2 linked regions of the Homo sapiens genome follow. The protein of the gene in region 2 interacts with the protein of the main gene of each other region in a biochemical or structural test. Each region holds a gene or a part of one and is shown on either strand. Other genes may lie near its edges. The genes, in order: USP15 and BMPR1A.

What was found.
Region 1: of the proteins of BMPR1A (region 2) and USP15, one has a biochemical effect on the other in vitro, tested with the Homo sapiens proteins (one study listed by BioGRID).

What each region holds. Positions count from the first base shown.
Region 1 is NC_000012.12:62,263,404-62,267,229, reverse strand, and holds part of USP15 (ubiquitin carboxyl-terminal hydrolase 15), read right to left. Parts: intron 1-3,826. UniProt on the Homo sapiens protein: Hydrolase that removes conjugated ubiquitin from target proteins and regulates various pathways such as the TGF-beta receptor signaling, NF-kappa-B and RNF41/NRDP1-PRKN pathways.
Region 2 is NC_000010.11:86,885,561-86,889,386, reverse strand, and holds part of BMPR1A (bone morphogenetic protein receptor type-1A isoform 3 precursor), read right to left. Parts: intron 1-3,826. UniProt on the Homo sapiens protein: On ligand binding, forms a receptor complex consisting of two type II and two type I transmembrane serine/threonine kinases.

The sequences.
Region 1 (3,826 bases), on a different chromosome or scaffold from region 2:
GTCTGGCGAAGTGGCTTCAGAGGAATGAATATGAGACACAGAATGTGAATTACAGTGGTAAGTGAGGAAATTAAAAGAAACAAGCTAGACTGACATTACTCAGGGAAGAAAAAAAGTATTTAGTAATTGTTGAAAAATTCTATACAAGGACTAAGAAAAAAGAGAAATTCCCATGGTTTAATGAAATATTGTTTGAATTACATTCGAGTAGTGACAGCATAAAACCATTTTTAATACTAAGGATCTATTCTTAGTATTAGATAGTATCTAGTACTTTAAATCTTTATAAACCAGGTATTTAAACCAGCTCTGAAATCATCAAAGATAAAATGAAGTGTAATAAGAGCATGTACTTTAAAGGCTATGTAAGTGTAAAGCATTTAAAATAGTGGCTGCGACAGACTAAGCATTTAATAAATGTCCGCTGGTAGTAAACTATGAGCAAGCAAATTAATTTCTCTCAGATTCCTCATCTATAAGTCATATAAATATATATATTTTGGTCCTTCTTTTGAGGATCAAATCTCGTAATGCACATAATCAACCTTTATCAGTTGTTCTCTATCTTCCCCTTATTTCCCTACCAATATGCCCAATGGTTTCAATTTACTTTTGTCAATAATCATGACTTATTAATGAAGTGATTTTCAGTGAAAAAAAGAAGAATCACTCTAAACTCACATCATAAGATAAATTCAAGACTAAGATAGCAAAATTGACTGTTTTATTATCATTGTATCTTCCACTATCTTAATTTAAATGTTCTTTCACTTCAAAAATTCTTTAAGAGTTATCTCTAGGGAAAAAATCAGTTGGTGAACATAATAATGCATTCATATTTGCATTTTCTGTGCTGAGTGGTTCATATGGATTTAAGTCCAAGAAGAAAGCCGTATGTATTTGTGGCTTATAGTAAACCAATACCATACTTTTAAAATATGGACCAAGTACCGAAACAAAATAGCCTACAAGATCTTACTATATGCTTCATGGGTTATTTCTGTAAAACTATATGTGAAGGGGCCATATCATCTCTAATAAGAGCTTATGATTATTGATAGACAATTAAAATTCAAAAGCTCAATAGTAAATGACCTCAAATTTTTTTGTCTGAATGTACTTGTGGATCAAAATGACATTTGCTCTGTACATTCAATTATTCACCTATCAATCTTTAAGCATGTTTTAATATCCAGAAGCAAGGTGTTAAGATTTCCTACATGTTCTATCATATCTAAACTGAACAGTCACAAGAGGCAAATGGTAGAATTCTGCTACTAAATATAAAATAGACTTCCTTTAAAAAGAAAAATAGGTTCTTTTCTTTTTAAAGTGAATCTACTTTTTAAAAAATGAATCTTTAAAATAAGAGACAGAGGCTGGGCATAGGGGTTCACACCTGTAATCCCAGCTATTAATACTTGCGAGGCTGAAGTCAGAGGATCATTTGAGGTCAGGAGTTTCAAACCAGTCTAGGCAACACAGTAAGATCCCGTCTCCACAAAAACTTTAAAAATTAGCTGGGTGTGGTGGCGCACACCTGTAGTTCCAGCTATTTCAGAGGCTGAGGCAGGAAAATTGCTTGAGCCAAGGAGTTTGAAGCTACAGTGAGCTATGACTATGCCACTACACTCCAGCCTGGGTGATGAAGCGAGACTCTGTCTCTAGAAAAAATTTTTTTAAATAAAATCAGAGGCAATGTGGTACAGTGCTTTAAGGGCACAAACCAAAGACCTAAACTACTTGGGTTCAAATCCCAGCTATACCACTATGTGAAAACCTTTTTGAGCCTATGATTCCTATTTTGTCAAATGTGAATAACACCGATTCCCAGAATTGTGGTAATATGGTGATGAGTAAATAAGTCAATATGCATTTATAACAGTACCTGGCACATAGTGTTTTTAAATGTAATATTACAGGTCATGGCCTGACAAACTGATTTTATCTTGTTACACTTACGTAGAAGCAAAATTGTTAACTGTCACAAAACCATTTTGCAAAAAGGTCATTTAATGCCTTATATGTGCTAACAGGAAAATGGTATAATTTAGGAAAAAAAGCCTTAATTTCACAAAACAGATAAACGAAATCATTGACTAGCTCTGGACCTTCCTGGACTATTAGGGTACATTAACCCTGGACTCACTAACAGAAGTCATTTAAAAACTTACGAAAAAGGCTTAAATTAAGAAAAGTTGCTTTCCTAGATTTTTAAGCATCTAAGATGTGAAACATGCCTTAAGGTCACTATCTCTGTCCTTGTTTTCACCAATTTACCAAGACTGAAGAAGTTTTTCCTTTTAGTTTCATTTCCTATAAATGATGTAGTATATACCCTACTCTGGTCGTAAACACCCTGGCACTACTGAAACTAATTTTAAAAGTAATAGTAATATAAAAATTTCTTTAAGTATACACTAAATATTTTGAAATTCATGTTGAGTAATAGTGTTCCTTTTCATTATTAAGGGATTTGTGAGTATAAGGTTATTTTCTTTTAGTTTCAAAGTTGCACGAACATAAGGGATCAAATAAAATTAAGCCTCAAAGATTTCTAAGTAAAAGTCGGAATGGACAGAAAGCTCTAAAAACTGAAATCAATGTCTCTTGTCTAAAACTTCACTGATCAGATTCTTTGGCAATTATTGAAATGAAAATGTCACAGAGATTTTAAATGACTTCACACACAAATTACTTACTCTGTAAAGTTACCTACTACAGTTATTAGGGTTTATACAAAAATGGCATGCAATGTTTTGCTAAACTGCAAAAGTTAACTACACATTACCACTTAACATAATCACACATAAAAATTACTGAAAATGATTGGCAGATGAATAACATTTAATAAAAATGGTGGAAACGAAGCAGTGCTTTGGATGATTTGTGGTTATGTTTTACTTACTCATAATAGGCCCATTTCTTTAAAAATTTCCAGGCCAGAAATTTTGCAGGTGGTTCACACCTGTAATCCCGGCCCTCTGGGAGGCCAAGGTAGGCAGATCACTTGAGGCCAGGAGTTCGAGACCAACCCGGGTAACATGGGGAAACCCTGTCTCTACTAAAAATAAAAAATTAGCTGGGCGTGGTGGCATGTGCCTGCAGGCCCAGCTACTGCGGAGGCTGAGGTGGGAGGATCACTTGAACCCTGGAGGTGGTTGCGGTGAGCCGAGACCACGCACTGTACTCTAGCCTGGGCGACACAGCGAGACTCTGTTTCAAAAACTTTTTTTCCAAAGAGAGTATTTTATAACCCATAATTTTCTTTGTAACTCATTAACTACCATTCCTTAAATATGTTCCTAAAATACTCATATGTACCTTAAGCAAATTATCTTTTTGTCTCATCAGAAGAAACCACCATGTATCTGAAAATTGTTTTTAATTCATCCTAAGCGATACAATTCTAGTTCATTTATCTCTTTCCTATAGTTCCTAAACTCTAAATTTTGTTCGTGTTTTTCTGATCTCTTGTTGAAATTGAAACACAGATCAACAAATATCATTTTGAGACTGCTTTATTCCTTATACAAATCAGTGCTACCTTCTTCTTGCTTTTTAAAAAGGTATTACTCTCGTATTAATTTTGATTTACTTCTCAATATAAAGTCTAGAACTAAATACATCATAAAGTATGTTTCTCTTCATCTCACACTTGTGTAACTTATTTTCATCTCTAGAAAATCAGTTTTTAGATAAAAATCATTCACTGCTTACAAATAAAGAGAAACTGTAGTACTTACACAGAATGAAATAAATCTTTATACTTGCCTAGGTATGGAAGTTAGTTACCCGAGTTACCATGAGACAGTCATTATCTGCA
Region 2 (3,826 bases):
TTGGCCTTTAATTGCTTAAGTAAGGAAATCATGAGAGCATGGGGACCAATCATGTTATCTGGAGATTTTCACCTCGAGGTCATTGGTTTGAATGCAGACGATGCTGGCAGAAACTGAAGGTTATAGAAGGGCAGCAGTTAGCTCACAGAAATAGAACTATGTTCTTACACTAGAGTCTAGCAGCCTGCAGTGACAGATACTGTCATATTTGGTACTAAATCTTTCAGGCTGGAAGCAGAACGGAACTAAAAAAACTGTTCTAGTAATTACTTCCTCTCTCTGACTCAGCTAGGCCATTCTTTGTGGGTTACTCTCAAGGGAATGAAAGGTGGAACCAAACAGACAAGTGTATATGTATTTCATTATGAATGTTAAATAAGTGGTTCAAGACACAACACAGACTTGATTTTACATTTACCATACTGATGAGATAAACTACTGAAAAGACAAAAAATATCACATATGCACACACAGGTAACAGAAAAAGTGCTGCTAAATAGTGTTTTGATGATTACATGCCTTCAGTTTCAATAATTTTCACTTTTTTTTTTTTTTTTTTTGAGACATGGTCTCACGCTATTGCCCAGGCTGGAGTACAGTGATGTGATCAGAGCTCACTGCAGCCTCAACCTCCCAGGCTCAAGTGATCCTCCCACCTCAGCCTCTGGAGTAGCTGGGACCAAGGGCACATGCCACCATGCCCGGCTAATTTTTAAATTCTTTGTAGGGACAAGGTCTCCCTATACTGCTCAGGTTGGTCTTGAACTCCTGGGCTCAAGCGATCCTCCCGCCTCAGCCTCCCGAAGTGCTGGGAATATAGCCGTGAGCCACTATGCCTGGCCAATAACCTTCACTTTCTTATACCGAATATTTAGTAAAAGAATTTGCTACTGAATGAGTATAGAGAACATTTTTATTTGAGATAGAGTCTCACTCTGTCACCCAAGCTGGAGTGCACTGGTGCAATCTCGACTCACTGCAACCTCCGCCTCCCAGGTTCAAGCAATTCTCCTGCCTCAGACTCCCGAGTAGCTGGGATTACAGGCACCCCACACAACGCCTAGCTAATTTTTTTGTATTTTGTTGGTAGAGACAGGGTTTCACCATGTTGGCCAGGCTGGTCTCAAACTCCTGACCTCAAGTGATCCACTTGCCTCAGTCTCCCAAAGTGCTGGGATTACAGGCATGAGCCACCGTGCCCGGCCAGGAGAGAAAACACTTAAAAAAAAAAAAAAAAAGCTGGAAGTTTGTGTACATACATATATTACTCATCCCCGCGCCCCCCACACCACTCTCCTTTCAGAAATAAATTCCGTAATATAATGTCAAGGCTTCCGTTGGATCTGATTGCTACAAAGCGGAAAGACCTCCTTTATGTTAGAAACATCAACTGTAAAAGATGGGGTGGGGGAAGCAGGAGGTACAGGAAGGGAAGAAATCCACTGAGCAGGAAATGAGGAGACTGGGATTCTGTTTTGCCATGGGCCTACCCCGCTTTACCTAGCTGGATGGTCTTGGGCAAGCCATGTCACCTTTCCAGGCTTCATTTACTCTATAAGGCTACAGGACTAGAGGACAGGTGAGGGAACCTGACCAGCTTTAAAATCCTATTACATTAACAGAAGACACGTATCAATTCAGCTCTGGAAAACAAACAGTATATAATATATCACAGCAACTGATTTTTCAAAAATCTAGTGACACAGAAAAAGCAGTTTAGTGTGGCAGAAATATCACTTGAGATAACAGCAAGAAGTGAAGGGTTCAAGTCGCAGTTACGGGCACAGATAAGTTACTCTCTGAACCTCAGCTATCTATAGAAAATGGGGATAATAATTCCTGCCTAATTCAAATCAAGAGGTTATAGGTAGATCAAATGAATATTTACTAAAGTGCTTAACTACATGTAAAATAGTATACAAATGAAGATGTTACTAATAACAAAGATCAGAACACTAAAAGATCACTGATACATGAAAAAACTCAAAGTTATATGAAACTTCCTAGAATACTATTTGAATTCATGAGACAAAAAACTCAATTACAGTAGTTGTATCTGGAGCTTATGTTATTGCCAAATATTCAACAGAATACTTAGTAGGGGTCTATTATGTGCAGGCAAGGTATTAAATGCTAGAAACGCAAAGATGTGGCATCAAAACCACATATGTGGCCTTGAGAAACTTGGTGGAAAGCAGAGGGGGAATAAGCACAAAAGCAAATAAATACAATGTGAAAAGTGACAAAATACAAAGGCCAGGCGCGGTGGCTCACGCCTGTAATCCCAGCACTTTGGGAGGCCAAAGTGGGCACATCACCTGAGGTCAGGAGTTCAAGACCAGCCTGGTCAACATGGTGAAACCCCGTCTCTACTAAAAATATTAAAAAATTAGCTGGGCGTGGTGGCAAGGCGCCTGTAATCCCAGTATTCAGGTGGCTGAGGCAGGACAATCACTTGACCTGGGAGGTGGAGGTTGCAGTGAACAGAGATCAAGCCATTGCACTTCAGCCTGGGCGACAAGAGCGAAAATCCATCTCAAAAAAAAAAAAAAAAAAAAGTGACAAAATACGGAGGTGTTTACATGTAAACAAAGGAAAAGGCTCATCCTAGGTGTCAAACTCAAACTGATCTTAGGTGTCAAAAGTAATGAAATCTAAGCTACATCTTAAAAACTTGCAAGATTTCACCAAGCAGATATTGAATACAAAGAAAAGTAACAGGAAAGAGCCTCTCTGTGCTCTCCCTAGGGGACAGCGCCCACTCTGTTGATGGTTCCTGGATGTACCCCCTCTAGCCATGACCTGCTTAGACATCTCCTGACTGACTTGTCTTAAATGAACTCTTGATTTGCCTCAAACCTGGTCTTACCAAAGTCTTTTGGCTCAACCTCCAAAATGTATGTCAATTGTTTTCATTTTTCTCCAACTCCGCTGTTGTCACCAAGGCCCATCACATCATGCCTCTACTAAGGTAAGAAGTCTCCAACTGTTCCCTCTGCTTCTGCTCTTGGTCCCTGCAATCCATTTTCCACAGAGCAGCCAGAGACATTTTATAAACACAAATCTGTCACTCCTATATAAAACCAATCAATGGCTCCACAATGCACTCAGAATAAAATCCAACCTCCACTGTGTGCTCCCAGGGCCCAACAGGATCTGGGTCCTGCAGGCCTCACCATCATCACTTTACTTGGCACATGGCCTTCTGTCAGTTCTGAACATGTCAATCTCTCGCCACCCACAAGTCCCGTGTATTTACAAAGAATAAACTACGAGCCCTGGGGTGGACTGGGGGTATAGGTTATATTTCAAAACAAACACACACAAAATATTTAATAGCTTACATGTTTAAGTATAACATCTCAGGAAAAAATGAAAACATATACATACAAAGAGACAAACAGTTACAAGAGACACATGACCATACACAGGCACATTTACAGGTCCTTGTCATCAACAGCAATTTTTGGCATCAATGATTTTACTAGATTTTTATTCCTGGCTAAGTAATTTTTCATATTTTCCCAATAATTTATTGGCTTCCTTTTTCTACAGCAAATAAATGCCCTCTGCCGCAACCTTAAGATAGAATGTCTACAACAGAACTCAGATGGCAAACGGTTGGTGAGACCAATGGGCTACTGATGCACTATACATATGAGATAATCAGCAATGGTAGCCTAATGAATTCTGCAACAACAGTCTGCATCATTAATTAAATAGAAACCAGGAAGACATCAGCAGAAGGAAAGTCAAGTACAAGGAAGCAAGAACTAGGGAAAAGGTGGCATGTCTACAACTGTGCTGTCCCATATGGTAGCCACTA